Linked DNA regions of Homo sapiens. The protein of the gene in region 2 interacts with the protein of the main gene of each other region in a biochemical or structural test. Each region holds a gene or a part of one and is shown on either strand. Other genes may lie near its edges.

What was found.
Region 1: the proteins of KLF7 (region 2) and FBXO38 form a complex in vitro, tested with the Homo sapiens proteins (one study listed by BioGRID).

What each region holds. Positions count from the first base shown.
Region 1 is NC_000005.10:148,391,748-148,408,486, reverse strand, and holds part of FBXO38 (F-box only protein 38), read right to left. Parts: intron 13,774-16,739; 5' UTR 13,711-13,773; coding exon 13,583-13,710; intron 9,489-13,582; coding exon 9,355-9,488; intron 6,506-9,354; coding exon 6,342-6,505; intron 6,140-6,341; coding exon 5,974-6,139; intron 3,803-5,973; coding exon 3,665-3,802; intron 2,231-3,664; coding exon 2,093-2,230; intron 1-2,092. UniProt on the Homo sapiens protein: Substrate recognition component of a SCF (SKP1-CUL1-F-box protein) E3 ubiquitin-protein ligase complex which mediates the ubiquitination and subsequent proteasomal degradation of PDCD1/PD-1, thereby regulating T-cells-mediated immunity.
Region 2 is NC_000002.12:207,146,779-207,163,517, forward strand, and holds part of KLF7 (Krueppel-like factor 7), read right to left. Parts: intron 2,423-16,739; exon of another isoform or gene 2,213-2,422; coding exon of another isoform or gene 2,204-2,212; intron 1-2,203. UniProt on the Homo sapiens protein: Transcriptional factor. Plays a critical role in neuronal morphogenesis and survival of sensory neurons. Represses the corneal epithelium differentiation.

The DNA.
Region 1 (16,739 bases), on a different chromosome or scaffold from region 2:
TTCTATTGCCAATAGGCATCTTTCCATTTTGGGATGATTAGAAACAGTGCTTCTATGAACAATCTTAAAAATGTCTTTTGGTGAACATATGTAAACATTTCTGTTGGGTTTAAAGCCAGGAATGCAACTGTTGCTATGTGTATGACCAACTTTAGTAGATACTACCAAACAGTATTTCAAAGTGGTTGTATGAATTTATATTCTGACCATCAGTGTATGAAAGGTCCTGTTGCTTCACATCCTAGCCAACATTACTGTTTTTATCTTTTTCATATTAGTCACGAGTAGGCATAGTCATTTTAGTGCTTGAATATCACACTGTAGTTTCAATTTGCATTTCCCTAACGATTAGTAAACTTTTATCGTTTTTTCATGTTTATTGGCTTCTTGTGTGCAAACTTTTCTATTCAAGTCTTCTCCCATTTTTTCTATTGAGTTGCCTGCCTTTTTCTTATTCATTCCAGGAGTCCTTTATATCTTCCCAATACCCAGTATCTGTATTGCAAACAGCTTCTCCCATTCTGTAGCTTGGTTTTTCACTCTCTCTCTCTCTTTTTTTTTTGAGACAGAGTCTCACTCTCTCACCCAGGCTGGAGTGCAGTGGTGCGATCTAGGCTCACTGCATGCTCTGCCTCCCAGGTTCACGCCATTCTCCTGCCTCAGCCTCCCGAGTAGCTGGGACTACAGGTGCCCGCCACCACGACGGGCTAATTTTTTGTATTTTTAAGTAGAGACGGGGTTTCACCACGTTAGCCAGGATGGTCTCGATCTGCTGACCTCATGATCCGCCCGCCTCGGCCTCCCAAAGTGCTGGGATTACAGGCGTGGGCCACTGCGCCCGGCCGGTTTTTCACTCTCTCAATCATGCCTTTTGATGGACAAAAAAAAAAAAATTTTAATTTTAATTTGGTACAATTTATCAATATTTTCTTTATGGTAAATGCTTTTTGGTGTCCTGTTTAAGATGTCTTTGTGTACTCAAGGTCAACAAGACATTCTTCTAAGTTATTTTTTTAAATTTCATTTCAAAATTGTTCTCATCTGAATCTATGACCCATCTAGAATAAATTTTTGTGTGAGGTATGTTGACTTCTTGAGTAAAATACAAGGCAGGGTCACCCTTAAAAACTGATTAGAGAAGAAAAGTCTCTGTTTTTCTTTTAGGACCTTTATACAAACTCAGCTTTTAGCACCTCTCTACAGGTCTTCTCTCTAGTGAATACACCAGTAGCCTTCTTTTCGTTTTTGACTTTTATCTTGTTAACTATCGCCATCAATCAAAATACTGTTGGTTTTAAGGGGTTGTTTCATCCCACTGGCTAAATGTAATAAAGTACACTTATACCACACTTGACTGACAAAATGTCTAGAAATGTAGTGTTTACTCTTCATTATATTTCAACAGTATTAACTATAATGTCTGTTTGTTAACAATGGTACTTGATGACTTTCCATTTTATTTTAGAGAGCCAAAGTTAAGTTTTTGGTTTCCAACTATTAATCATCCATTTTGCTAAACCACTATTTTTTTTCTGCAATGAGATGTTTAACACAAAGCACATTCTGTTACGTATTATTTATCTATAGTTAAGTATACACAGAACAACTTTTTTCTTTTAAATATCATCATCTGATGGGTAAATCAATATCCAAGTAATATGTATAAAAGTATTTTTTATATTATAAAGTATTATGTGATAGAGATTAACATTATTAATGCCTAAATTTTTTTTGGAAGCCTCGGCTGTACAAGTTGTAAAACATCACCAAAGAACGCTAGAAATCCCTGTTAACATTTCTAAGAAAGATTCCATACATAAGAGGAGGTATTATTAGCTACATAAAAGTCAAAACAAGCCAGAAAACATGTCTTATCACTCTACTGTCTATTTTAAGAAAGTTTAATGTGCACCAAAAGAAAATGAATACTAGCTATGCTCATGGTTACTTACTGTCCATCAAATACAACAAAGAAAGCAGTTACTGACGAGCATTTTCTTTTTAAAGACTTGCCAGGGAAGTTAAATAAAAGCTTAATGATTATTTTAAGTTGATTTTTAAAAAATATTTAGTAATTAAAGAAAATGAATACCTGATCTCCAACTGTCTTCAACAACATGTTGGATAAGACCTCCAAGGAAAGGAACTCGAACCATTTCTAAGTGTTCCAAGTTTCGGGCAGAGGCTAAGCCTGTTACTAAAGGGACATATTTCAAGGAATTTGTGGGTCCTGGAAAAAAAAAAAAATCTTTGATAGAACAATGTAAAGTGCCTTAAAATGAATTTCAAATCAGTGAAAGACATGTATAACTTATAAACTCTAAGTCTTAAAATGACAGCCAAATTGGCTCTCTGAAATCAGGTTCTTGTTACAAATGAAAGTGTTAGCCTATTAACCATACACTTACTCAGCATAAAGGTTTTTCAGTAACACTGTAGAGATATGTAGTATTCCGTAAATTCTCTAAAGGCTCAATAGTTTTGAACTCAAACTAACTAATGGGAAAAAGTCAAGATAAAAATTTGATCCTTCACTCAAGTAAACAGCTCAATCATTTAATCATCTCTATGACCAGTGTTGCATTAGCTACTATAGAAGATCACAAAAGATATGGTCCTGTCCATCAAAAAACCTGCAGTTGACATGGAGCTAGAACTAACATAAGTAATTATAGAAGGATAAGAAGGCAGACTGCATCAAGTGTAAAAATAAGATCTGCCATACTCCATGAAAAAGAAAAAGAAAGAGGAGAAAAGTAAGTTGGAAAAGGCAGAACCTGAAGAACGCATACAAAAACAGAGGAAGAAAGTGCACATCTCAGGATAACGAAACAATAATACAGCATAAGAGAAGACATTGAGATGGAAAGCTGTATGGCTGACCAGGGAACAATGAATAGTCAAATGTGATGATAAAAGAAGATATATCTTGGAAAGGTGTCAGAATAAGGTTATCAAGAGGGGTCCTGGTTATCATGACCTTAAGCAGAGTAGTTCCCACTTAATGCTCTAGTGCAGCGGTGTCCAATATTTTGACATCACTGGGCCACACTGGAAGAGGAAAAATTGCCTTGGGCCACATTGGAAGAGGAAAAATTGTCTTGATATTAAAGATAGCTGATGAGCAGGAAAGAAAAAGAAGAAGAAGAAGAAAAAGCCTATGCATAAATCTCATAATGTTTTAAGAAAGTTTAAGAATTTGTATTGGGCATCATGTGGGCTGTGGCCAGTGGACCGTGGGTTGAACAAGCTTGCTCTAGGGCAACAGGGACACTAAAGATTTCTGTTTAGAAGGATAATACCATAAAAGCTATGTTTAAGGGAGATTAAGGAAGCCAACTATTTACATGCAGAATGATTCGGAGACCAGAAACAAAGTAAGAAGACTGAAATTTAATAAAACAATCCTAGGAAAAGTAAAAAGTACCCGTAAAAAATAGAGATATTCTGAGTTTTGTTTTTTTTTTTTTGCTGAGGTCAAACACAAATCATCTTTCTAATGTCTTTAAAACAAAAAGTACATTTATCTTCACAAGATGAATATGTTATAAGACATAAATAGTAATAGCATAATATAATTGTATTTACAAATGTAGCTAGAGTTTGCTTCAGGATATTTTTAGAATAACTTATGTTTAATTCCACCATAATTGTGTACCATTACCTGCACAGTTCCTCATGACGAAAGTTCTTAAGCTGATACAAAGGAAGTCTTTAAATGGCTGTGGTTTAGTGAGTCTTACCCACTTCATATAAAGGTGCCTTAGCATTGGGATACAAGGAATTTCAGGAACATTCACCCCTAAAACACAAATATAAAAAAGAACAAACAAGAAAAAAATCACAAAAATATACTATATTTTGCTTATAAGTTCAAGAGTCTATTTTTCATATTAACAGCTTAACCTTCAAGGATTTTTATCCGAACAAATTATACAAAATCTATCAAGTTTGCCTTATTTAAAACAGGCTTACAAAGAACAGTTTACGTAAACCATAAACTGACTTAACTTTTTTAGGAAAGGCCAATGGGAAGATAGAGTTTAAAAAGTATTTCTATGTCTTAGACATGTAAGTCTTTCTCATAATCTTACAACTCTTCTAGGATACGTTTTCCCAGAAGAGGTAAAGTGAAAATGGATTACTGAAAGCAAAACTATAACGATGGAGATGGAACACACAAATTTACTATTTGACTACCAACATCCACTGCCCCCTAGTAGGAGAACTATATTTCTCAGAGCAAAGTCAGCTAGATGGGTTTAAATATGCAAATAGATATCTGGAAGATAGCCAAACACAGAACTTTAAAAGCTGTTTTCTATAAATATATGAATCTTAAGAATTTGTAAATGTGTGGGAGAAGCCAGCCAGCATGGCTCTGAGAAAAGCAGAAACCTGCCAGTCATTTATTTTAGAATTTCAAATTGGTAAAGGTAATTTGATGCATGGGATCCAGGAGTGGCTTAATACTAGGAATCATATCCACAGAGGACCATGACCAGAAGAAGGGAGGTGTAGCGTGAGGTGAAAAAATACAGGAAATATGGATGAAAGAAGATAAAAGCCAAGGAAGGGACACAAATTTATTAAAGAAATCCAAGGATCCAGGATGATGGCATTTAACAAACAGTAGTTGGCAAAACTGTTTAATGCAATTTTTAAATTTGAGACAATAGGAGCTCTGCTAGCAAGAATAACTAGAGAATGTAAAATTGCAGTACTTGAATGGTCAGTTGTTTATAAAGGCTAAATTCTACCAAATGTTCTTATTGTAACCTACAAGGATTACCCCTTAACTTGTTCCTCTCAAAATAGCAGAGTTAAATTTAGTTTGAACTATGCACACACATTGTATAGCAACAAATGGGAAGTAAAATTAAGGATGAGACAAAAGGACAAAAAGCAGAAGTGAGGTACAGATTGAGATGTAAGATGCAGAAGTCACAAAGGTTAAATTTAGCATATATTGTAATACTATGAAGATGGTAGTACTGATTGTACTGATTAGGAAACCCAAGGAAGAAGGGTGAGACAGATGCAGAGAAGACAGTATACCCCAGGCCCAAACCACTTTCTGTCTCAAACAAACTCTATAAACAAAGGACATAACTGCCCATTCTCCTGGTAATGTTTATTTTTATTAATTTACCACACCTCTGCATCACCATAATACAGTGTTAAACTGTTAAATGATTCCCATAAATTAATGCATTTTAATAAAACTTACCCTGTACTTATATTTGCAATGAACTGTGACAGGCATTGTAGAAAATATAAAGATATGGAAATAAGTCTTTGACCTTAAGGAGCTTATATTATAAATTCCAGATATTACAGAATCCTTTTACATCTAAAAATCCAATTTCAAACTAGATATCACTCCCTGATCTTATAAATGAAGGGTTGCTAGAAATCTTTACTCTTCTCCCATAATTGTGTATCTAAGTCTTATTTAAGACCTACTCCTTATCATTCCTGATGCTCTCCCTGTACCACCTGAGTTTCAGAAATTTCCACTTCTTTAGACCATCCCCAATACCTAGAATAATGCTTAAAACACATATACTCTCTCTCTCTCTGTGTATGTGTGTGTATATATACAGAATAAAGTAGTAAACAAATATTAAAGGCCAGCTATATTAACAGGGACCCCCGAATTCCTTTCAGTGGCCTAAGCCAAAGGTGACAAATTTGAGAAAATATTTACACTTTTTACTTAAGTTGAAGTTACTGGTATATAATTTCAAAGAATATTCAGATGGAGAATGTACACTTGTGAAGCAGTATTTCCCTCACACCAGTGGATCTTTAATGGGAAATCGGAATTTTTATACAGATCTTGCAAACATTTATTTTGCAATCATCAATCAACAAAGCCATCTCTAAAATTCTCATTATTCTTTTTCAGTGAATATTCACATTTTATGGCATTTCAAGGAGTTACAAGTGACCCAAGAAACATGTACTCACCAACTAAATGTAAAGTTTGAATTTTGGCTCCTATAGGAATTTTCAGTTTATTTTCAGGAGGAATTGGAAAAGCTCCATTACGATTACGAAATTTCCCCAAAATATGAACATGGGGCATATATGTCCAAATGGATTCTACCAACTCCAAATGAGAAGTTTCCACACCCTAGAAAATAATGCCAAAGCAAGCATAAGAAAAGACTTTAGTTTAGCATCCAAAGCTTTATGTACCACAAGATGCTAAGTACACAATGGAACTTAAAAGTTTGTGACAGATGAGATTTGCATGTGAGTGAACACGTCTATCATTCTTTGGTCTATTATTTCATAAACAGTTGATGCCAAAATGTTCAACCAGGTGCACTCACCACTAAGTTTGGGCATGCCTGCAAAGCTTCTAGGACTCCTGGAATGCTAAAAGCCTCATGGCCCCTTACTCTTCGCCTCTCAAGGTATCGAGGGTGAAGGCCATATAGCTGTTCAACATCTGGCATCTTCTTTAATAGTGTTAGAAAACTGGCATCTGTAAAGCCTGAGAAGTTCAGAAGTATTTAGAGCCAGGTTCATCTTTCTGTTCATTAACATTTACTAGGCACTCGTGATTTTTACCAAAAGTTAAAAAAGACTTCCTCTTCAAATTTCCGTAAAGCTAACACTAAAGCTGAATAAACATAACAGAAAATATACTCCTTTAGTAACAGAGGAAATGAGTCAGAAACTCCACTTAATCTAAGTTAATACTTTATGGAGGAGGCTTTTATTATTGACTTTTTGGTTTTTGTTGCTTTTAAGGCATAGAAATCTTCAACAAAGAACACACTTTTAACCCAGATAACTTGGACCTATTTGGTGGATGGAGTGGGACCACCCACCTGATCACCACCACCCTCCTCCTCCCCCATGGGTACTCTCGTCTGTAAAACCTTCAGGACTCTATAGAACACATAACTAAAAATATAAATAAGATATGATCCTCATCGTTAGGAAGCTCACAGTTCTGACCTAATTCCTATCTCAAATTATTCTATCCATTTTCTAATAATTACTCTGATACTCTGTCATATGTTTAACTATTACTCCCCCGCCATTTTAGACAATTAATTCTTTTGAAAAAGACAGATGCAAGTTAGCTAAGAGAACCAGAGTGATCCAATCTCAGGGTATGCTGTTGATAGGAAGCTATCTATCCAGGAGACCATAGTAGGAATCAACAAGATGGGAACAGAGAGAGGCAGGTTACTTCCACAGCAGGAGCTGTTGGTTAAGTAAGTGGGGAGACAAGTCTCATATAGATCCTATTTTAATCTGTTACAAGGGCTTTTTTATTTTTAATGAAAGTGGTCAGAAAGCCAACTGTCTGCTTATTAATGACAAAGAAAAACATTAACTGTCAAGAACAAAAAGTAGGCCCCAAATATTTAAGTCTTACATACTTTTTTGAAAGTTGTTTTATTTTTAAGTTATCTCATTTAACATGTAAAGTCCAGACATGCTAACTTTAGTGAAGAGTAAGGAGAGACCAGAGATTACTTGGTCTCTAATTATAATAACAGTTCTTATTACTTTCTTGTATAGTAACTTTTAATGACTGAACGATTCAATGTGTTAATCATTTTTTTTCATTTATTCTCACAACCAAATCAGAAAGGTTATCACCCCATATACAAGCATAAAAAATGAAGTTGAGAGAGTTTAAGAGCTTCCAAATGGCAGTGCTGGAATCTAAAACCAAGTGTAACCCCTGCAATGTTTATCCTCTTTTGTCATACATGTTGCCTCCCACGAGAGAAATGGGGAAAGTTCTATCTTCTTTACAGAGATGGAGTGAGAATCCAAAGAGATCATATACGTAAACCATAAAGTACTATTATATAAAGGATCTGAGTTAAATGCCAGATAATAGGCCAAGGTGGCATTAGTGAGCAAGGTTAGTGTGATCTTATCCTAGGCTAGAGACTGTTTGCTTCAACTCTCTTTTACATTCATTGCAAAGATGGGAAGCCTTGGGCTCACAGGTTATTTATCATAGCCTAAAAGTCAGCAACATGCAGTCAAATTCTTCTCTAATTGGTAAGTGGTAGTGATGTTAATGGTAAGACTATATCACATGGGAGTTCTGCCATCCTGTCTTTATATACTGTGTTAATCCCGTCTTCAGAATTCCAGCTGGCCTAACCTTTGCAAAAGTAAATCTAATATAAGGAATAAGACAATCATTTTCACACTGCCCTAATTTTTTTTCTTTCCTGACATACAGGATCATTCTGAAACAAGATGAGATGAGGCTTTTGCCCTTAGAATGGCTTTTATTAAATATCTGAAAGTAACCGTGGTTTGCCTCCCACAAACCTATTAATAAGCTCCAGCCTCAGGTGTTTGCAATGTTCTTTATAAGAAAGTATATATTGATAACTACTATGGCCAGCTGATAAGAGTTACCAACTGATTTGATGACTCTCTTGAAAGGATGCAGCATCCACCTGCACAATTCCAGTATTCCAGAGCTAATCTGTTCTGTTCTATAGAACAGAACAAGACAATTATCTCCTCCAGCCCTTCACTTCTATTAAGGCTTTTTTTTTTATTTTTATTTTTTGGTTCCCCTCTCAGCCTTATCCCATTTTCGAAGTCTCATAATCTGGACATCATAGAAAAAGGATGACTTTAAAAGACAGATTCATAATTGCAAAACAATAGTAACTAAATTTTACCAATTAATGGATTGGCGTTAAGTGAAAAGAAGCCTTAATTGCCTTTTATTTTAACTCTTTCAAGTATGCTTTGCTTAGCTAAAGCCATTAACTTTCTTTTCAGGTGGTCTCTTCAACTGGGAACAATTTGCTGTGGTTAGGAAGCTACTGAGTTCTTCACCTGTAAGGTCAGTCAGTGGCTTATTCGAGAATCTCCAAGACCTACTATAGGTCTTCTAAAGAAATTGGAGTTCTGTGGCCTATTCTACAAAAATGGCAAGTATTTATTTAACTAAAGGGTGCAGTTTAGTTGCAGAGGAAATCTATGATGAAAACTGTTACCATTCACCGGAAAACATGCATCAGACAGTAAAGGACACACAGTGTCTAATGTGATACACATATACTCAATTAACCAAAGGCTCATGTTCTCCAATCACAGATGTGTGGAACAGGCTGATATAGTTACTTAAGGACAGGAAATGAAAAGAGCAGACTATTAAAACAATAAAGCCTCAGGTAAAACGCATTTTACAACCTAAAACCCAACATAAATAATTTAGACAAAATCTTGCCAGCCTACAAGGTGACTTAGATTGCCTTTCTCAAGACAACAAGTAACTTTTTATGAAACCATTGTTACTACTTTCCAGTAGGACACTACTGTACTTCACAGACTAAATCCACTTACCACTTGGCATGTATTCCCACCACCGCCCTGCACAGAGATCTACAACTCTCACAACTCGCAGATATAGGGTCACTGCTTCCTTTAGCTTCCGGGAAAGACATTCCATACACATGATATCCTGCAGAGGGAGGTACCTTTGTGAGAGAAAGAAACTCGTATTTATCAAGTGGATAAGTATTACTTCTCACCAGTAAGTTATTTTTTTTTCCTTCTTCCAATCTCCTACCACTCAAATGAAATAAGATCTTAAGACAGAGATTTAAAGCTACCACACATACGGTCATACAGCTTTTTACTACAAAGGTAAGTCAGCAAATAGTTGAGTATCCAAATAAGGTATTGAGCTCCCTCCACAGGTCATTTGATAAAACCTGCCTTTCTTCTTTTGAGTTTTCATGGACAAAGAAAATCTAAAAACAAACCAGAAAAACAAAGAAAAGAAGAAAAAAAAAAAAACAGTGCTTTTCAAGATGTGATGAGAAAGGAACCTGAGAAAGATCAGAGAGAATTACTCAATTTGAACATGCACAATATTATTTCGTATCTTTTACAGAATCTACTCCTGCAGGGACATTCTGCTCCCTCTCAACTCCACCATCCTGCTCCTGCAAACTCTACTATCTTCTCCATCAACAAATATGTATACTAGTCATATAGTACACAATTTCTTTTCCCATTTTTTTTTTTTTTTTAACCTTTAAGGTCACATACACTGATAAAAGTATTGCGTAAAGTATTAAGACACCTCATGTGAATTACAACTTCCTCTTTTCCATTCTTCTTTATTATCTTTTCCTGAAACTTTCAATTAATCCTGACTTTTGTTCTGTTATATATTCTGAAAGGTCTATTTTTCTCTTAAGACCCCTCCACACATGCCTAGATTAATTAAATGTTTTGAAAAGTTAAAGCTACCTTTACCTACTGAACCTGTATTGCGTCACATTCTACTCATTGTTTCACAACAACCTTAAGAGGTAACTAGCTGGTTCCTGTTTGGCATACAACTCTCTCCCAGTCCTTTATCTCCCCCTCTCTGACCTGCTGTGTTCCCTACCCCTCTCTGGCTGTTAACTTTAGCCAATGAGATGCACCAGCTGGAGGGCTCCAGGTGGCAATGCTGCCTTTCTACTGCTGCTAATCCCCTAGACAAATTCTTCATCATCCCTTACTTGTTCCCTAAACTCCATCTACATCTCTGTAAATAGTCCCTTCATTAAATTATCTTCAAATTCCAGGTAAGTGTATTTTCTGTTATCTGCTGGCACTTCACTGACATAGTATACACTATTATTACTCCATTTTATAAGTGCTGAAATTAGCTCAGAAGAATTAAACCTGCAAAATGTCACATGGCTAGGTAAGAGGGAGAAAGGGTCAGGAATGGCAAACACAGTTTTGTCTGACACTAACTCTTAACAACACTGCTAATTCTAAAAGAAAAGTCCACATATACCTGTTGAATATTTAGCAGATCCATTTATTTTTTCTACTTCTCGTCCCTCTTCTTACCCCTTTAAAATGATTTAAATCAAATATTATACAAAATAAATCATCACTGCTAGCCATAACTTAATTTACTCTATAACTTAGATTATAAGCAGAATTTTTCAGAAACATGACAACACATTTTATAAACAATGAAAAACATTAAATTTGCTTTCTAAATAAATTTTGCCACTGTAATATTTTTCTCCTAAATATTGTTATCCAATGTATTTGCCTAGGTTAAAATTCTACTCCCTTTAAATACAAACAGACCAATAATCACAAAATCAAGATTATTTTACATCATATTTTCCCTAAGAAGTAGCATATTTTTTCTTCATAGTTATATAGTCAAAGGACTAGAGTTCAGAAGACAGATCAAATATAACACTTTAGAAAAGAGAGCATAGCAGGGACAGCAAAGATTAGGTTTCTTTTAAGGAAGGCCATAGTTTTTCTTGTTTTATGAAGACATGCTATGTAGTTACTACACCACCACAATGAATCCTCAAATCAAAATTTTAGAAGACTAAAAAATGAAACAAAATTGTTTGTTTTTAGAATAAACACATGAAGTTCAAGAACTAAGTTCATGGTTCTTTCTACGTGCTGTCAAATGCTGTTTTCTCCACTGTAACTACCATTATATATTGACTTGATTCTACCCTTTCCATTTGAATATTCTGTTTGAACTGCACAATGTTATATGATCTATTTTCAATTTAGATTATGGTCCAATGGCCAGGTGTGGTGGTGTATGCATGTAATTCCAGCACTTTGGGAGGCCAAAATGGGAGGATTGCTTGAGGCCAGAAGTTAAGACCAATCTAGCCAACAAATCAAGATCCTGCCTCTACCAAAAAATGAAAAAATTAGCCAAGCGCAGTGGTGTGCGCCCCTAAGGCAAAAGGATTGCTTAAGCCCAGGAGTTCAAGGTTGCAGTGAGCCATGGTCATACCCTGCACTCCAGCCAGAGTGAGACTCTGTCTCAAAAATATATACATATTATATATTGTCCAATTTTTTCACAATATATCCTAGCATTATCCAACTTTATCCCTAGATGCAATTTTACCTATGTGTTCTTAAAGAATTTTGAAGGATTTGTTTAATTCACTGACCCATTTTGAATTTAGCTGTAAGACATGAGATAAAAATGTGCTTTTATTTTTTTCTCCAAATGGTTTGTAGGTTGAGACATCATTGCTGAATAGTCCACCCAACTTTTCCTCACTGATGTGAATACAACCTTGTCATAAACTAGATCTCCACATGTATTTGAATGGAGCCTATGTTTGTCTCCTTTACCCAACTGTCCAGCTTTCTTTTCCAAAACATTTTAGAATGTAATTGAACATCTGGTAGTTGCAAGACTCTTTTTCTGAAAATTTTTGGCTATTCTGACAGACTTTTTTTCTGCCAGATGAACGTTAATATCATTTTGTTCTGTAAAAAAAAAATCTATCATTTTAATTTGGTCTTCTAATCCCAGACAGAACTGAACTAGCAAAAACTACAATGTGTCACAGAATAACGAACTGCAGGAAATAATGACATACACATTTATATTAGAAAAAAAAATACAGTGCTTAGGATCTCCTAAAATAACTGTTATTGCTATTTTAAAACTTCATAATCTGCAAATATTCATTTGTAGAAATTCAAAACATTCCTAAGAACTTCATATATGGAAATTTTTCATAGGTAAACTACCTAAAATAATGGAAAATCCAGATGCTTAGAGAAGTTTATTGCAACCATAATTGCAGAAAACAGAAAAACTGAAAACTATCTAGATGTCAGACAAGGGAAATGATAAGTACCATGTTATTTATACATTCCATAGAATAGTAAGCAGTAAAAAAAAAATTATGAAGACCATGTAGCAATATGAAAAAAAGCAGAATAACCATTAACATTTACCAAGCATTTATGCTTCAGTTTGCTAAGTGTTTAATGCATTATCTCACTGAATCCTAATAATATTGCTATTATGTCTATCATTAGTCTAGAGCTAGCAAATAATAGACCCAGGATTCAAACTCAGGTCTCTAATTTCAGAGACAAAGTATGTTAGAATTTGCTTATTTGAATTATATAAATAAGGACAATAATTGAAAGAAGAGAGCAGTGGAAACTAGAATGACAGCTTTCCCTTTAAAAAAAAAAAAACAGTTGTTATAATGCGGTTTGGGTAAAAATATAATTTTTTTAGAAGTCTTTTTGTGTTGTGTTCATCATAAAACAACTTTAATGTATGCACTGCATTTAGTTATGATGGGTATTATCTCAGAAAACTTAGTTACAATCACTTACATGTTATGTTTCTCACTGTGGGTTGTAGTCAGAAAAAGTCAGAAACACTGCCTTATATTGTGCAGTGTAAACACACAGTACTGTTATAATGCAGTAACAAAAGTCAACAAATCTATTAGCCAATAAAAATCCCAAGAAGCCTAGAAATGTTAACAGTCTAGAGAAAGGCTGTCCAACAGAACTATATGTGACAAAAGAAATATTTTGTCTATACTCTGTTGTCCTATACACCGTGTCCACTAGCCACATATGGCTACTAAGCACTTGAAATGTAGCCAGTGCAACTGACGAACTAAATTTTACATTTTTACTTAATTGAAATGTAAATGCTGCATGTAGCTGGTAGCTACCACATTAGACAGCACTGCCTCAGGGTTTGCTCTTATCCATTCCAGGCAGGTAAGCCAACCAAACACAATCTTACCTAAAAATATGGCAAAGTACTTCATGTGAAAGTTGATTCATATAGTCCTTTGTTTCATCTGCTGTCATTTCTTCTGGAATTTCATTATTCATGATACATGTTTTCACACTTTTCTTTCGTGGCCCCATTGTTGTGCAGTCTCCAGTATCAACGAGAAAATCTTCCCTTTTGTTTACTTGAGTTCAAAGTACCTGAAAAGCAAACAGAACGAAGTAGACTAAAAAAACACACCCCCTACTAAAACCCAGGTTAAACAATGTTTATTTTCAAACACACACAAGCAGAGGTATCATAATGGTACACATCACATTCAAATTAATAAAAATATTAATTTGTTCTGTGCAAAAAGCACAGAACATCTTTTTCTCAAGATGAGTGGATAATCAACTTCTGAAGATAATATAAATATGCATTACTTAGAAAGAGCAAAAATCCAGGAATCATGAGTATTGTGCTTTAATTTGTACTGTTGCTTCTTAGCTTATTCACTCAATTTCTCCAAGTATCAATTTCTTCATATGTAACGTGTGATCATTAAATGAGGAATCAAAACCTCTTCCAGCTCCAGGAGCTTGTGGTTCTTTCTAGGACTGACCCTAACATAGTGGAAAGGAGAAGAGATTCTTGGGTTCTAATCTTGATTCTGCCCCAAATTATTTCTATAAACTTGCATCAATCTTTAAAATTCTTCATTCTCTCACCTATAAAGTCAGAGATTAGATTAGTCATGGACCCCTTTGTGAATCTGATAAAAACTAGAGAACTCCTAAAAAATAAACACAAGCTTATATACAACTTCAGAGAAAGAATGAAACATCCCTTCTCCCTCTCTTGTGAATATTGACATGGTATTTCACTTTTGCATCACATGCATATTTTGTTTTTAAAATAAGCTTTAGAGAAGGATGAAAAGAGAAAGAAAAGAGGGGAGAGAGGAGGAATGGAGAGGGAAAGCAGGGAGAAAATGGGTTGCATGAGCACCCAGATGGTTTTCTGTTCTATTGATCAGCATGTGGAGTTAACACCTTGATTGTCAAATTGTCTAGGAATATTTTAATAATGTTGGTACAGATATAGGGAAGTTTATAGGAAATATTGGTCTCTTTTATATTAATGGCTTTGTAGATGGAGGAGGCACAGGATGACAGCTGAAAAGAGGTGCATTCAGATTCATTTAAATATGCCTTGGCACATTTATTTTGAATACCACTTATGTACTCTGGGCCCATTGTAAACAAACGGCCCAGAGTTAAGTGGAGATACACAATTAAATAACCACGCAAATGAGCTCAGAATTGCACACGGAGATAACTGCTGCAAAGACAGTAAACACAGTTGTGAAGCCTCATATAACAAAGGGGCCTGAGTCACTAATGGTTCTCCTGAGGGAAAGACAATTGAGCCCATAACTGAAGGGAGAGCAGGAATTAACACTGCAAAAAGTAGGAAAGAACTCACTAGGAGAAAGGCACCTGGTGGGCAGAGGGTACTTTAAGTATATGCAGTTCCTGAGGTTTTTTTTGCCTCAGCAGTAAATGGACACTCTACTAGGCTAAGTAAATCTTCATCATTTCTTCTGCCTGTGTGTGTGTGTTCTGGTCTCTTCTTCCCTCACTGAAAGGTTATGTGCTATTTACTTCTTGAGGCTGTCAGCATGCTTGCCTCTCATCACACACACACACACACACACACACACACACACACACACACACACACCCCTCTTCTGTTGTTTCTAACCAGTACGGCCTGAGAAACCAGAGAAATCAATGTGTGTGGACTGGTATATGGGCTATGCTACCCTGAATTTGTGACATGTGTCTTAACTTCTCAGAAGCTTACTCCTATGTTGTCTATCACATTTTGGCTAAGAGGCCTCCGGAAAAATAAAGTTCATACTCAGAACTGCCCAAGCTAAAAGAAAAGCTATAAATAAACTCACCTGCTTCTGATTAACCACTGCCCACCTTTTCTTGTTTACTGCCCTGCCTCCTCCAAATGAATCTTTCCATCTTATGATAGCTCCTGAAACCTCTAAGGTTACATTGAACATGTAGTCAACAAATCCAATAGCCTCTTTCCAGTGCTTCCCCATCTGACCCATTTGTATTATGGGACACCGCTGACCACTCCTTTGAAACCCTCTCATCCTTTGGCTCCGAAAGTGATATTCTCGATTCTTGTCGTTCCTCTATGACCACTGCTCAGTCTCCTTTGCTAATTTATCCTCGAGCCCTCTTCTCCCTGGGCAATTGTACTCATTCCCAAGGATTTAGCTATTACAAATACACACACACACACACACACACACACACACACACACACAAAGAAAAGCAAAAAAAGAAAAAATTTCCAACTCTACTTCTTACCTCTCCTGAGCTCTGAACTTTATTTCCTCTGCCTATCAGAAATTTTCACCTCAATAACTTGAACATCCTTCAAAAACACTATGTTCAAAATGAACTCCTTCATATCACGAACCCTCCCCCTCCCCAAAACAAAGATACACAGATATATACAAATAAACACACCTATTTCCCTAATGTGTTTTACTGAATTCCTGAATTGTAAACCTTGAAATCATCCTAAATATATTCTGATTTCTCATTTCCCACAGACAATTGATGGGCTATTTTTATCAATTTTATCTCAATACAGTTCTTACATCCATTCCCATTACCTTTTGGGACTCCATTAACATTCACGTGCACTACGGAAATGGCTTCCTAAATGATACCCATCACTGTATCCTCAGGGTCGAGGAAAAGCTTAGCAGACACTATGCCTGCCATAAGTAATTTATTGAATAAATGCTTACCATGCTATACTCTATACTGAAGCCAGTTATCTTTTTAAAACAGTCTCCTGATTTATAGTGTTAAGTGAAAAAAGCAAAACACAGACTACATCTAAAGTATGATTCTAACAACAACATAATTTTAAAAATTAAAAAGATTACCCCCTAAAACTTTTTTTAAAAAGTATGATAAAAAAGACAAATATACTGTGTCTGCATACAACATTTTATGAAAGAAGACAACAAAATATTAACCGGTAACCTTTGAGGAGTGATAACAGAGGTTTAGGAAAGCAGAAAAAAACTTTTACTTTTCACTTCATATTATTCTCCATCATTTGAAATTTTCAGATTGTTTTTAAG
Region 2 (16,739 bases):
TGTCTCTCATCCGGCCTCTTTCCTGGAGGGCTTTACTCTGCCCTCTTCCATGGGGGAAGCAGCTTGGGGCCAGAACATGAATGCCCCACTGATGCCCAGATAGGACAGGTAGGGCACGGACATTCCTGGCAACCTGCTATTCTATGCAACATATACTTTCCCATGGTATAAGTCAGCCCATGGGCTAGAAGGGGTTGGGCACAGGGAAGTATGGGGAAGCTAAATTGAGACTGCACTTGCCAATTGGGTATAAATCCAGTTTCATTAATAATAAAGCTGATATTTGACCTCTGTCTGGTTCCTATACCTATCTTCTCAAATAGGTTAAGAGAGGGGTGAAGTGTGGCAAATTTGTTGCTCCCATTAAAAGAACAGCAATTGTACTGTAATTATAGACAGTGGTTAGTGGTCCAAATTATTGGTCCTCTTAAGATGCCTGCTGTTTTTTCAGTTAACAAATAAAATTTCAAAAAACAGAAACACAGGATAACATAAGTGGTCCACCATTCCATCACCTAAATTGCTCTTAAAAAAATTAAAAGCAATGATCATATATGAAGGTCAAAAACATTGAAACAGAACAGAAAAGGTATAAAAAGTAAAAATCTGACTTTCTTTGCCCCCAGCACTCTCCCCTCCTTCTCCCTCAATTTGTCAAGTGCTTATATATCCTTTTATTTGAAGTGTTATGCATATCAGCATACATAATAGACACTTTTATTCCTTCTTTTTTTCCCTCATTTACAGAAGATAATTGGCTTTTCATTTTAACAGCTGAAAGGCCCCAGGTGCAGAGTGGCTGGGGCGGAGGAGTCTGAAGGCTTCTATCCCCCACTCCACCCTCTGCCATGGCTCCCCTGGCCCCATAAAGGTTTCACCCCTATTTTCTAGGTGTTCTTACGACCACACCCACCCAATTCCCTCTGAGAAAGTGGCTCAAAATAAAATACGTCTTAGGATAGCTACATGAGATGGCGCCATTGGGAGAAGCTGGCGAAGCTCCTGTGTAACACGATATGCCGGATACTAACACCAGCCCCTCGCCTCGGTGGCTTCGATGGGTTCTGCTGGCCAAAGTTGTAACATCAGCCAGTTCTTGAAATGTTTTAGGAAGCGTTTGATTTTCTTTAAAAGACAAAACCATGTTTTCCAATAAAGCTAACTGCAGTGAACTTGGAATGTTACCACTTGATCTGAAGCATTTTTTTTTTAATAGTTAAGCTTCTACCCGCTTTTTAAAAATCAAAACTAAACCTTAAAAGTACATAAATATTTAATTTCACAGAGAAAGGTATGGCTCTCCAGATGGGGAGTCTGTCCAATTCATGATCTCAAGCATTTTATGGCAACACTTCCCTGTAAATCAAATTGGTGGCAAAAATCCAGCTGCATACTCAAGTGTTTTGTCACATTCCTGATCCCAGAATTTAATTTCTCATGTGGAAGTTTGAGCCAAAGGTATGTCCCAACAAATCCCTACAGAGGTTGGTTGAGAGGCTGACATTCCTGTCCCTCTTCACCTTCACTTACTCATGGAAGTCTGGGGCCAGGGCAAATGGAAGCTGTGAGCTTCAGGGACCCGCTCGACTTGACCTAGGGTCTACCCAGTCAGGCACAGCAAGAGAGGCTCCTCCCAAGCCACCATGCGGTACTGCTTCCCATGGTCATTCTACATGCAAGCTTTTGCTTTGAATGGATGTATAAAGACAAAGCTACTCAACCCAAAAAGATAGTAATGAGCAAAAATCCTGGTAGCCTAGTGATCAGATCCAGCCCACAATGGTTTTTTGACATATATACTACTTTCATTTTGCCCATATTTTTTTAAAATCAGGGGACTTCAAATAAAAATTCAGATTTCTAGCTTCTCTTGAAAAACCAAAAGATCTGGCGACAGGTTCTGCAACTCTCTTGAGCAGTATTTGGCTGGAGATGAATGGCAACTGCCCCTTCAGATAGGGTCTATACTTTCTATGTCACCACAGTTCCCACCACTCTCTAGTGCCTTATACTGTGCCTTCCTCACTCACTGACATTACCAGGCTGACTCCCCGGGGCCATCTTTATGACTCCTGCTCTCTGACTTTTCCTTTGCCAACATCTGCTTTGGGGGCAGGGATCTCCTATCACCCCTCCACCCTCACCTGATTCCCCATTCTCTAAATTCTTGGTGCCCTTAATATATGATATACCCAGTCATTACCTGTGTCATCTACTGTCCTTCCTTTTGTTCAAGACAACAAAAACAAAGGAATGTCTCCTTACAGCCAACTCTGTGTTCCACCTAAAGGATGCAGTTTCCATCAGCTCTTAGGGACTGATAAATCTGTCTTTTCCCCAGTCCCACCCAGTCATGTTGATTTCATAGTCAATAATAAGAAACTGGTGTGTTTTCTTTTTGGAGATGATCTTCAATAATTTTCTGAGGAGAAAAAATTAAAAATCTGTTAAAAGCAACACCCCCACTCAGCGCTGTCACTCTCTCTCCAGGAGGCTCTGCCTTTGTCTTCTAGACTAGCCATACATTTTTCTAGCACTTATCACTGCTGAGGTTCAGCAGGGGTGCCAGACTAACATAGAGAAAGGGGCCTCCTGGGCCCATATCCCAGGCTTGCCCATATCTGCTCTACTGGCAGCACTGTTAGTAGTCCAAGAAATCTCTGATGATCCATCCCGGCTGACTCCTGTGCTCACACTCTGCTCAGCGGTGGTGCTGTCCACTGTTGATAAGGCACTCCTGCCACAGTTTTGGCAACAGGAAGACATCGGGAGAGCCTCTCACAGACAGAGCTGCAGATATGCCTTCATTTCAACCAGTACTCTAGGTAAGGCAGTATGAGAGTGCAGCTTTGTACCTGACACCTGGGCTCCCCAATCCTTGTCAGTATGGCACCTGTCTTAAGCAGGATGTAAATCTCAACATATTCATTTGAAGAGTTCACAGGGGCTTGGCCAACACAGTCAATGTGGTCCTCGGGTCTGAGTTCAACCTTCCTTCCAAGCTGCAGTAACCTTCTACCAACTTTATCCTGGGCTAGGACAAGAGTCTGCATCTCCAAGAGCAACATACTGCTCTGTCATTCTGACCCCAGTGTGCCATAAACTAGGAGGCTTCCATGGACGTAGACATATAGGTAAGTCCAGGACTTCCTATCCAGGTAAGTCCCCGTCTTCTTATTATCTAACAACATGTGACAGTGTATTGTTAATGAGTCACTGTAGCCACACAGATGTCTACTTTCAGAAGCAAATAGTCCCCAGAATTCTCAGTTTTACCCAAAACCCAGACTTCCTTCATCCCTGAATACCACTACCACCCTCCCCCACAACCACACACACATACAGACATATACAAATGCACATGATTGTTTCATGAATGTGGTAAAATACAATTGTTAAGAATGTATTTTAAAAACTAAAGAGAAGCATATTATATCTATCCAATAGTTATACAATACTGTATTCCACAGACTAAGTTTACTTTGCAAAATTTAGCTTAAAGCAAACACACATGAATACACACGAAATAAATTACAAAGTTTTACGTCCCCATTTAGACAACCAGTAGGAAATTTTTCAAAGTACCACAATTAAGGTTCAAGTAACAGCCCCACTGGAACAAATAAAAAGTCACTAAGTTCCTGCTCGGAAAACTGAATAGAAATCATAAAGAGGAAGAAAGCCAACAAGAAGCGATAGTTTAAGGCTTGAAACAAAAGCCTCCCCCACTGCAGAATAGAAAACAATTACACCGTACAGCATGTAACAGTTTACAAAGCACTCTCACATCCATATAGCATTTGATTAGAGCAATCCTACTATCATAAGCCCTGCACTTCATATGGGAAATATAATTTAATAATTTGCTTTGTTTTATACTGATAAAGTCAGGACTAAATTCCAGGTTTTCTGATGCCAAATCCCTTGAATTTTCCACGACACCGGTATTTTTCAAACTTCAATTTCATTTCACCTTCACGGATTTTTACCAAATCAGCATTCCATCTGTACAATCATTCCCCTATTGTTTTCATTTTTACTTGCCTCACTAAGGCATTATATATTAAGGCTGCATGTGTTTTAAATTCTTTTCCTGCAAATGTTCATTAATAGAAGATAATCATAAAATTAAAAACAACAAAATCAAAACAATATTACAAACTTTCAACTGGAGGTTTGCCTGTCAAAAGCTCTGAGTGTAAGACCTGTTCTCTTTATTAAAAAAAAAAAAAAAAAAAGGAAGAAAGGAAGGGAGGGAGGGAGGGTGAAAAGGAGGGGTGAGGAGAGTTTACCAAGCCTTAGAGAGGCGTTAAAGACATGGCACCTCAAAGCTGACTGTCTCCTTGAGTTAAAAGGACTGAAAGAAAACAGCAATGGGAATAAAACTGCCTCCCGAGGTAATTCTGTGTTATCAACACTGCGCTTATGAAGCCCTGTGGAACTCAGCCCACCCTTCGAGAAGCAGTTCCCTCAGCCATGTTGCACCATGCCTTGTGTTAACATGTGAATATGTTTAAAATATTGCAAGGAGGCTCACAATTCTTGAGGGTCCAATACTGGCTTGGGCTTAAATAATGATCTCTGAAGCTCAGGCCAGTTATCCGCAAATTGAGGAGGGCAGGGGGGAGGGATCGGAAAGAGATGTCTAATACTCCTCAAGTTCTGGTATTTGTGAAGTCCTAGTCTCTATAAATATGGGGCATAAAAAAGAGCTCCTGGGTGCAAAAGCTGGAGGAAAAAGGCAGGCGCATCTTGGGTAGGAGGACAACTGGTTTGCATTCTGGTTCTCTTTTGCAGGGAAAACTGTGCAAGGACATTCTATGACCACATAATGTCTGCCTTTCCCTTTCTTTTTCTCTCTCTTCCTTTTTAGAAATATTTTTCAGAAATATTTTAATAGTAGCTAATTCACACAGTCAAATAGTCATTGGTTTTGAAAAATTTTACACACACACACACACACACACACACACAAAATAGTAATAATCTTGGGCCTTTATTTGGCACTCAAAATTTTTTAAAAAGAAAAAAAAGTAATCGGAGATTGGAAAAATGGAGGAACACCCAGCAGCAAGTAATTTTTTTAAATGGCTTTTTTTAATCAGGAAAAGAATGACCCTAAAAATCACCATCTGGTCAACCTAAATGATATCCTTAGTAATGTAAGAAAGCCAATATAAAAGAAAACACTTTTTAAAAACACCCCTAATGTAGAATAGCATCCTAAAAGCATTAGAAAAGGAAGGCCAAGTGCCTTGCTGGCAGTATTTGAGTGCCAAGGGTAGGAAGAAAACACATTACTTGATTCTCAGGAAAGTACTTTATTATAATACCCTGGACTTTTTCACACAAAAAGCATCACTTCCTCAGTGAAACAAGTCATATAAAATCCACTTCCACAAAAAAATAAGCAGTTACAGCGGTTAATGGAATTCTCTACAACATGCTTCTATGTCAGACTAAGAAAACTAAGAACTGGTTACATGTTTTTCTTACACACACACACACACACACACACACACACACACACACGGAGTTTTTACTACAACTGACCAGCTGGGTCTCTGGGAGTGGCAAAAGAAACTGTGACAATAGCAGGCTTTTTTGTTAATGAGGGATGTCTGATGGGAAAAAAAAATTGTTTGGTATTGTCTCATTTTACTCCCACTTAGACCAAGAGGCTGCATGCTCAGGAAAATCAGTCAGTTTCCAAATTGGAAAATGTTACAAATACCAATAAGGAATGAACATGCTCTAGAGCAACTGCTAAGCCCAGGCAGGGGGAGGGGTGAACCAGATGGTCTTTTCCATCCCAGATTTCGATGATCTACAACAGAACCTGAATGACTAGGAAAAAGTGAGATGCGATTTGGAAATTGCTTTATAAAATAGAATCCCAAACAAAGACACTCAACAAGGCAGAGAAATCTAAAAGGAAATGAAAATGGTTCTGGGTGAGAGCAGAAAGCAAGCCAGTTTGAGACTGTGATTGATAAATAAAGCTTGTCCCCAAATCAGAACATTTTGGAGCGGAAGGTGCCTTAGAGAGATGCTAGTCACAAGCCCAAATGCATGCTCACTGGGCCAGAGATCAGAAATTAAGCGAGGTGGAAATAGTGGGGACAGGGTTAATTGAAGAGTGCACGATCTGTCTAAAAGCATTCAAATTAAAGGGAATTGAAATATGCATGCCGGCCAAATAAAACACATCTTCAAGCCAGTTCAGTCTAGGAGCTTACTGTTTGTATGTCTGATAATCTCACTGTTCCTAAATCTACCTACACTGTTCACATGAGGAAACTGAGGACTAGAGAAGTCACATCATTTGATGATAACCACAGAGCAGCGAGTGTATACAGCAAAGCCAAAGTGCTAGGATTATGTTACACACCGAGATGATGTTAAACAACAGCAAAAATAAAAATGACATTAACCCAAAGTCCTCCGCACACCTTTGGTTCAGGTATACTCAGTTCACATGGTTTATTCTTTTAAGAACAAATTAAATTATCATCTAGTTAAACACAAAGCTAGTGAGAACTGGGGGAAGAAATAGAGGGAGGTCGTACTAAAAAAGAAAAAACAACAACAATGAAAGGTTCAGAGTCAGACATTTTGTTTCTCAAAAACAATAGTTAAATTTATAGTTAAATTTACTGCCCTGAGTCAGACATGGCAAACAGAGCTGATTTTACAGAGAGGTAAAGTGAGACACTTACCATGGCTGTGTCATGGTTTATTTTGTAATATATTTTTTAAAGTTAGGTGTTCAAGTTTCCTTCTAGATGCTTCTCAAAGAGCAAAGTGAGAAAAATAACTTCCATTCCTGGTATTGGCTATTAAGAATCTTTTTTTTTTTCTTAAGTGTAATTCCAGGGGAAAAAAAAACCTCAGTGAGATATATCAAGTAGTGGAAAATCTTTGCAGGAAAATCATGAAGTAGAGAGAAAGATGAGAACATCCTCCCTTGGGGCAGCTGGAAAGAGACTAGACAAAGAACTGAAAAGTTCCTTTGGGGAGCCCACCTCCTGCTAGCCAATGGGACTTTCCTTCCCTGGTTTCTCTGTAGCTAAGAAAACACAAATATATAATCTACAGAAGGAGAGAATGCAGCCTTCACACAGGGCTGGCATCTCTGAAATAAATCTCTCCATAGGTGCTAGGCTAAACCTTAAATATGAAGATATAATCTTTTGAGTTTTATAGCAGCATATGCATGATTCTTCCCCTCCCCCATAAAACTCTCAACAGGAACAACCACATCAAATTATTGCTTTTCAGAGGCCAATTCAAAAACACCCTACTTTATCACAGAAAGAATATTCCTTATGTATGTGAGTGCTTCCATTATGTCTTATTTGAAGGGGGAAAATGAAATAAAAATCCGATCTGAGATATTTATAGATCTCATAAAACCTGATTCACTCTCATAAGCTGCAGTAAGCTCAGTCATCAGGTAAGGCAGAAATGGCAGGTGTAGTAACCGGCACTGTATTATGTTATATATGCCTAATTCTGGCTCTTAAAAAAAATAACTGCATGCTAGAAAAACATAAGATACGTAAGTCATAAGTCAGACTGGACAGAAAGAAAGGGGAAGAGATTGGACATTTGCATGAACAAGCCAAGCAAATTCCAAGGATGTCAAACTAGGCCCAGTTTCCGGGCACAAAGGGTATTGCTAGTCCTCCCCCAGTTCCAAGCACAAATTACTTAATGAAAGTTTCCCTTGTGGATGGATAAAAGGTATACCATATCCAATGCCCAGCATTCCGCTTTCCCCTGCCTTCCATCATTTATTGTCTCTTGGGCATTCCAGGCTCACTGGGATCTTCAAGACACGAAAGACACCACTGAGAGAAAGAGCATTGTGCCTCTGTGTATTATTATTGAGAGGAAAATGGGGAAGGAAAGAGCATTTGTTGAGTGGATGTTATGTGCCAGACACTAGGTCAGAGAGCTGATTCTTATCAGGAATTAAGAACTCCACAAATGACAAACAAGACTCAGAGATGTTAAGTGACTTTCTCAAGGTTCCACCTCTGCTTGATTTCAAATCCTTCATGTAATTTGTCTACTATGAAACACTGTGACCTTAAAAGTGCCTCGCACAGTCCAGTCCTTTTACAGATAAGAAAACCAAAGCCCAGAAAGAAGACAGACCAATGAACTACTGGAATCCATACTGGGCCACTGACTGCCAGGTCACGACCTTTGGCTTCTGCCCTAATGTCCCCTACCTAAAGAGCAGTCAGTATAGATGTAACAATTAAGAGTGCTGGGCCCTGCTGAGGCTTGGATCCCAGCTCAAATACTTCCAAGTTGTATGATTTTAAGCAAGCCATTCAATACCTCAAATCTCAGCTTTTCCATCTGTAAAATGGGGATAAATAGAATACGCATTTCATAGAGCTGTTGTGAGCATTCATTGAAATGATGGATACAGGTGCTCAAATGAGATCATCTTTAGGAAGTGTCTGATACATATGAGACAGTACTATGATGGTTATTTTTATGACAGGAAGATTAGCCAAGTGGAAAGAGGGAAGAGAAAATTTATTCCACCAATGGTTTTTTGCAACTCATTTGCTTTGCAGCCACAGTAAGACAACTTGCTTAAGCTTCCTGTGCCCCATTTTCTCACCCCTGAATGGGAAATTCTGTAATATCTGTCTGCTCCCTAGTTAAAGAAAGAATGTGCCAATGACAAAAGACCAGGAGCAAAACACCCTGAGCCCTTCAGAACAAAGGCTCAACACAGATGTTTGTTACATTCTCATATGCAAACATAAAAAGACCCATCACAGAGGAAATCATCTCTTGATCCGTATTAAAGAAAAGCAAGAACCTTGAGAAGGGGAGGAGAATGTACAAATTAGGGCTGAACAATCTTGGAAGAAATGAAGTCGACTCAGGTCTGACCTTAAGCAGCATCTCATCACTCTCAGGGGAATCAGTTCTGCATAGGGCCTCACAGAAGACATCCTTCAACACCATAGTCAGAAGCTGCACTTCACTAACATGGTCTGTAGTGCCCATATGAACAAAGGCTAAAAGCTCAAAAGGCAGGGGGTGTTGGGGTGGAAAGAATCTATTTCCACTCCTTTGTATGCTGAGCAAATTTGCCGCCTCTCCAAAAATAAGCACCAATGTTATGACCACTCCATTGAATTCCTGCTAACTCGGCTCTGGAAGGTGAATGTGAGAACGGCGTCAAGAGCAGGTGGGCACTCCCTTGCAGGGCAATTGCTCCACGGCTAATTGCCGTTTTCACAGCTGGGTTGAGCTTTCCAAAAGGCATCCTTCAACCCTGAGCTCTGAGCTCCTCTCCTGATGTTCTCTCTTGCCAACCATACCCCCATCAAAGACAGTTTACAGATGAAAGGATGTAGCTACAGGACATACAATTTTGCAAACATCACAGTTTGAAAAAGAGGCGTTTCTAAGGCTTCTTTGTGAAGATCACCACACGCCCACAGTCATTACCACAGGAGCTAAGCCTTCTATGGGTGTGAAGGCAGCCTCCTTGCCGGAATGTCCTCAGCAGCAATTCTTCCACAGTTTATTTTTGCTCCTCTTACTAGAAAGATGGATCCTCTGAAATTCTTTATAAACAGAGTCTACTTCCAAACACTGTGGTTGGTCAGTAAGAAAATGGAGAGCTGCTACCTAATGCCTCTCCAGCATCATCCAACAGATGTACATGCATGCATCCAGCCCTTTCAAACCATGGAGCAGGCTGAGGTGAGTGGAAAATCATGGCCAAGGGCCTACTGAGAATGAATTGTTTGAAACCCAGCAAGGCTGGAGTTTAAAGCCCAACACCACAAAGTTTCCAAATATGGAATTTGACCAGGTTAAGCAAATTCCTGATGGGTCACAGGAAATGTGAGCCAAACAGACTGCCTTAGACACTTTAGGGTGAGGGAAAGCAAAGCAAGAAGGATGAAACAACACTTGGGCAGCTGCTATTAACAAAAGTGCCAGATGAAGCACATCCACCAGCATGATCCTGTTTTACTATAAACCTCTGGTCCGTGTGGATTCCAAATTACACAAGTCATTAAATATTTCAATATAAGAAGCAGGTAACCCCAACTCTGACATATCATTAAACCCTCTATACACCAATGGCTCAATGCCTTGGCTGCATACTGGAATTGCCTGAAAGCTTTACAAACACTGATGCCCGGGTCCTTCCCAAAGAGATACTGATTTTATTGGTCTGGGGTGCAGCCACGATTGAGAACCACTGAAAAAGGCATAGTCAAATCTTAAGTCATAGTCATAACATGCTCCTCAAATAACTATCGAGTGCCCACAGTGTGCAAAGCTTTCTAAGAAGCAGGTGATACATTAAAAGTTGACTACCAAAACTATACGCAAGGCATCAACTCCTTAAAGCATAAACTTAACAAGAAAAATGACACAACAGAAAAGTAAAAAAAAAAAAAAAAAAAAAAGAAAAGCTTTATTATAACTCAAAACTGTAAAGCATCACGGGGAAGTAAAAAGCTCTGCACAAGAGTATGGAAATCATAGCAGTTACAGTTGGCTGGTAGCAAGGGAGGGAGTTTGGCACCCATTTGAAAGTTAAGGAATGGGTGGAACTTGGACAAAGAAAATCAGGAAGGGGAGAGGGAGGAAGAGGAAAAAGGCTAAAGGAAACAACAAAAATAAAGACAGAAGCAGGAAAAGCATAGTCACTTAATTTGGATGGCATTTACTACATGTGAAAAGGGGGGAACTTGCAAATATTGTGTAGACCCAGTCTTGGAACACCCTGACTCTTGGAAGTTTGGCCTCATGCTATGTATAAGAGGGAGCCATGAACAGTTTGAAAGCAGGCCACCTGGGGTGATGGTGGCAAAAAGGCAAGTCCAGGGAGGTGACAGGGATTGTGGCAAGGCAATGGCCAAGGGTGCCATCCATGACAGGCTGATGCTAAAGCACCTCAGAAGCCAAGTCAGTGGGATTTTTCAACTAATTTTAGACTTCCGCTAATTAGATCTTTTCACCTAATTTTTTATTAGATTCAAGAAAAAGAAAGGAGTTACAATGACTAGAATGTCAAACCTAGATCATGAGACGAATAATCACATTATTAAAAGAAATAGGGAAGCCAGGAAAAAGGAAGCAGTCCGTGGAAGAAGTTGATGAGTTAGGGGTTTAGGACATATTCAGCTGAAGTGATGGTAGAACAACCCCAAAGCCCATCTTGCTTGTTGCTTATTTCTGGTTAGAAAAAAATGAGGGCCTGAAACCCAGGGAAATATCTGGAGGTGGAGATGTAGAGTATAGCTGTGAGGAGATGAAGAAGCCCTGAACTGGGAAGGAGATTTTAACCTCTAAGATGTTAGAGGTGAAAGAGATCTGTGAGACACATTCTGGGAGAGAACTTTCACCATCATAACTACCAATTCAAGGAGGTAGGGAAGGGCAAAAAGTAACTGGGGAAAAACTGGGGCAAAAAAGTCAAGTGAGCCTTCCATTTTCCTTTCCTCATTAGGGACAATGGTAAAAATTAGGCCTACTTCATCCATCAGACCTCAAAAGACTTTTTGAAAAACCTCTCAGAGGTTGAGTTTCTTCACTACTGCTTATTACAACCCTCTCAAGAATTTAAAAACATTTAAAAAGATTTTCATCAACTGGTACATGGGTTGCTGGTAAAGTTTCGGGCACTCTCTTTGTTGGTGAGGTGCCAGAAACAAAGCAATTTCACGTTTGTTGCTTTCTACTTCCATCTAGTTCTATATTCCATCCAACCCCCTACCACATATGCCCCACTGCACACCCTTCATACTCCCACTCCATTTGTTATTATTTAAATGACAATAATTTTTATAAGACTCGAGTTATAATCTGGGGCTATTTTTTCGGTACAGTGTATATTTTCCAATTTAGCACACATTAAAAGTGGAAAAAGAATCAAATTACACAAGTAAGCCTTCTCCAAAATATTCGATAACTTGTTCTAGAACCTAGCCAATCCCAAAATTCCATGAACCAGTAGTCTTAAAAGTAAAAAGGGAATTTTCTTGCCTCCTTTGAAGGCAAAAAAGAAAGAGAAAAGAATCAGAAGTGAGTCAAGGTATATTCAGGTGACAGAAAGCAAGTAAACTGGTCTGGGCATCTGAGAGTCCTGGGCCCTGAAACCATCAGTGTTAATAAGCTGTGTGACCTTGGAGAGTGCAATGCCTCATCTGGCTTTAACAATCACTTAGTTCAACCCAGTATTTTAGAGTTGAGGAAACCAAGACCCTTTCAAGATTTGAAATTCTGAGATTCTATGTTCCTCGCTTTGGTACAAGGCTGAGAACCTGACTTTCAAAATGACCCTCAGGAAATGTCAATACACCCACATTCAAAAATAGATATCGCATATGGCTCTACGTTATTTTAATTACCTCTAATCATTTCCGAATGGCACAGACATGGGCACTGTTTCCTGGCCATTATGGATATGTGTATTCACATTGTATACTCATCTGCCCTAAAAGTATCCAGCCCACAACATGACATTGGCTGAAAGCTTTTTCACAACAGAACTTAGTAAATCTCAAGTATGTTTTATAAACAAGGTTGGAACTATGTGGGTAATACAGATAGGCACAGGTCAGTGTTCCAACACAGAACTGAATGTTTCTTTCTTTCTTTCCTTCTTTCTGGCACTCATGCTCTATTCTGTTTAACTTAATTTTGAACATGCTTTCTCTGCCTTACTACAGTCAAGCTCCTAGAGGGCAGATTCTATATCCAATTCAATTTTGCATTGCCCAAATACAGTATTATGCACATAAAAAGGGCTTAAGGAATGAAGTATTTACTGTGGAATATTTTCTATACTTGAATATAAACAACAAAAATCCCACAAAGTGTGACTAGGTCCATCTACCAGCTCAATGAAGAATGGTATCCCCCTGAAATCAGAAGTCACTCGCACCTCATTTGGGCTGATACTAGACTCAGATCTCAAGGCTACTGCAAACGCTCAGCTGTAACATTTATATATCAAGCATGTGGTACTGCTCGAATGGAGGGGGGATGGACATGAGTCGTTTAAACGGGACCAAGTTCTTAGGGTCACACCAAATACCCCGAGAAGGAAAACTAAAGGGATGTAGGGTGGTAGAAATAATTCTGCCAATTAGCAGGAACTAATCTGGGCAAGGTGGGGCACAGCAAAATCACAAACAATCTTAGGTAAAAGCATGTCCCAGTAATGGCAACATTTTGTTTATTTGGGGAATTTTAGATAGAATAAGGATATGTATATTCTACAATGAGTATACAGAGAGGAGTGTTTTTTAACTTGTCAATGTTACATGTAACATGAATAATTAGACACTATAATTTGTTTCACCAACTTTAACACCATTAGTAGTTGAGTTTTCTAATCACTGTACTTGGTAAGATTCGGCATTTTGGGGTTAAAACATTCCGCCCCCCTACCCCCAATCGTTTATGCTAAGCAAGCAGTCAGTTGATTTGGGAGAACAAAGGGACTACTGGACAGAGGAAATCTCTGCCCCTCACCCTCTGGCACCATTCAAGTTAAGTTGGGGAGCTGTCCTAAACTTTCAGCAAATCGCAGTTCTAACACATAGGCTAACTGATATATCGAGTGAACTGGAATCACAGAGCGATTTTCTGCATTTGCCAGTCGTGGGGTCCAGCAAAGATAATTAAAAGCCCATTGCACAATACTATAAAATGAAAAGATAAGGGGTATCCACCGACCCCGTCTGGAATCAGACCAGCTATCCTATCAACTTGAGCCAGATGGGACTGGCCAGAGGAAATTGTATTCTTCTTTCCTCAACAGGCACAGAGAGCAATTAAAGAAGATTGCAATGTCTTCTTGTACTCCAAAAGTTAAAACGCAAGAATTCTCTGAAGAGAGTACAATGTGAAGATTCATAAAAGAATGGCTATTAAAGGCCCCATTAGGACCCTCTCTGAACTATCTCCATTTAAGTAGAGAGGCAAATTAGCCCCCACTGGCATTTATGTTTAGAATGGGCTGGCAGAAAGAAGCAGCCCACATTTGGATGCTTAAGGTCTCTGACACACCCATACATAAATCATTTCAGGGCAAGGCTGTCATCTTGCATCTTCTGCTCTGCCTTTTAAATGGATGGGACCCCAACATCCCATTCTCCTCAGGGTAAGGAGTGGGGGTGGGAAGTTCATGGAGAACAAAGAATAGTGACCTCCTTTTCCCCCTACTAAGGACAGATGTAGTAAAAAATAACTGCATTATAATGTTTGCCCACTTTAAAATACCAAACTGCAAACAGGTAGACTGAATGATAATGTTTGAAGCCCCTAAATCTACACAAAGATGTGTCTGTTAAAGGAACATGGAAATGAATCTATTAAAGGCTAAGTGTGTGATTGATTGCAGTCACATGTGCTTTCATTTGTAGAGTTACATCTATTTAGTGATTGCATCTTCATAAAGATAAATTCTGGGTAACGGGCAGTTATATTTTTATTTCATCTACCAAGTTGCTGTTTCAAATAAAGAAACAGATTTACAGTAACTGAAGAACACACAAATCACATACCAAAAAAAAACAGTTATTTTATCCTTTCAGTGTGGCTAGCAAGGCTCCTTTGTGTCTACAAATTTCCCTGGGTGGTGCTGTTGCCAAGAAATTCTAATTCATGACAAGGCTATCTGCGAATTGGGGACTGAGGCAAACCTACGGATGGACAGACCCTACAGTTTGCTTTGTTTTCCTGGCTGATATAGCACCTGGCAGCCCAGGCCTGCAGAAGGAAGTGCAAAGGCAAGATCTTCACATAAAAGGAGAAGCAATGTGGCTCACAGACCAAATCCCATCCCTGGTACCATGAGGCTGTTCTTGGAATGCAACCATTTCTGTACGTTTTCCCCTAGAGATTCCTTATACCAAAGGCCCTCATAAAAAGTGTTTCAGGGTGCCTGAAACCAAGATGAAATTGCAGTGTTATGGGGACACTTTAGTCCTTACAGTAGCCAAGTATGCCATTAGTTTAAAACAATAGGGGAATGGGGGAGGAGAGAAGAATGTTCTATGATTTATTTATTTGTTTCCAGTAGCAGTGGAAAATTTTCTCTGAGCAAAGAGAGGCCTGAAACTGACCCCATCTGCCAATTATGAATCAGCATTAACAACAAACATAATTCCATAAGACTTTTCAAGCAAACATGCGATGCTCCTCAATGACACGACGCAAAGCTAAGTCCAAATAAGACTTAGATCATCACTGCTTGACCTGCACTCATGAAATAGCAGACTAGAGATAAAACATATAAAAGTTCTAAAAGTCTTTGTATATTCAAGAAGAAAATAAAAGCATTGTATCAAATTCTTTTTATTTTCCAAGTCAGCAGTGTGTCTAAAAAAAAAGATTATGATTTCTATTGGCAAAAAAAGTCATGAATGAGTTTCCCTTTACTCATAATCAAGTGGTACCCCATAAGAAACTCTGGTTTCTGTCCTACCCTTGACCTTTTCCTACTTTTGCTCAGACAGCTCTTGGAAATTTTCCTACAAGTTTTCAAAGCGCTTAAGGCTGGTAGTCTTAAGAATTGCGCGTCAGCTGAATTCTATAAAATAATAGACCACATAAGCACAGTGTAATTTACAGTTATATGACAGGCAGAAAGATGATGTTACTTGGGCCGAGTGCTTAAGTATGCAGTCAGAGCCCAGGAATGGAGAGCTGTTAATGTGTGATGTCCATTTGGATTTCAGAATTATACCAGCAACGATTATTTTCAGACTTGGAGCTATGTGGCTAAGGCATCATTGCCAGAAAATCCAATGTCAAAACGAGGATCTCCGTGACGAGAGGGAGCCCTGCCACAGTCAGTGACTTTGTCACAGGCTCACTGACTATTAAGCAGGACAATTATCCCATATCCTAAGTTTAAAATAAAATCCCCAAATTGTTTATCTTCAATTTTCAAACGTAAAAATGTTCTTGAGTTTATCATCGAAGCCACTCTTTCTCTAGAAACCAAGTCAGATTATCAGAGTCTCCACATTTTGCTCATCTCCATGAGCCCAGGTACATTGTTCACTTTAAGAAGAACATCTAATAATTACTCCTCATTTGACCTCTAAAATCTGATTACCCCAGAGCATAAAGAAACTTCTTCCTGTCTGGGGTTCTTTGCAGAAACCCTGTTGAGCTGTTTTGAGCAAAAGAGTCTCAAAATTTCATTATCCGATAGTTGATTTGGAACTAACAGTTGCATATCACCATCACCACCCCTTATACTCAGAAGCAGCAAGACGGTTTTGGGAGGGGGAAGAAGGAAGGGCTAGAGGTTAAAGGTTTTGTCATCAGTGTAAACCTATGGTCCTAGTCGCCTTTATATAGAGCAGTTGTGATTACGGAGTCCAGAACATAAAGCTCACTGGAGTGATATATTGTTTATTAGTGCTTCCCCACAAGCTATGCATCAGCATTGGCTATAAGCATGACGCTGAATAAGTTGGCTAAGGGTTTTAAGGTGAGAGTGGCTGGCAGTTGGAGAGGGTTAAGGCAAAAAATGAGGGGGTTCCGAGGGGTGAAAAATCCTTTGCCTGTAGAAACTAAACTAGAGCTTCCCTGAATGGGGAGGAGGCAGAGGAGCAGGGGGAGGAGGGGAGAAGGAAGAGCAGAGATGGCTTCTTAGGAAACAATAGATCTAATACATCCTCTAGTTGTCAAACCGATGATGTTTCTTTGCAGATCTA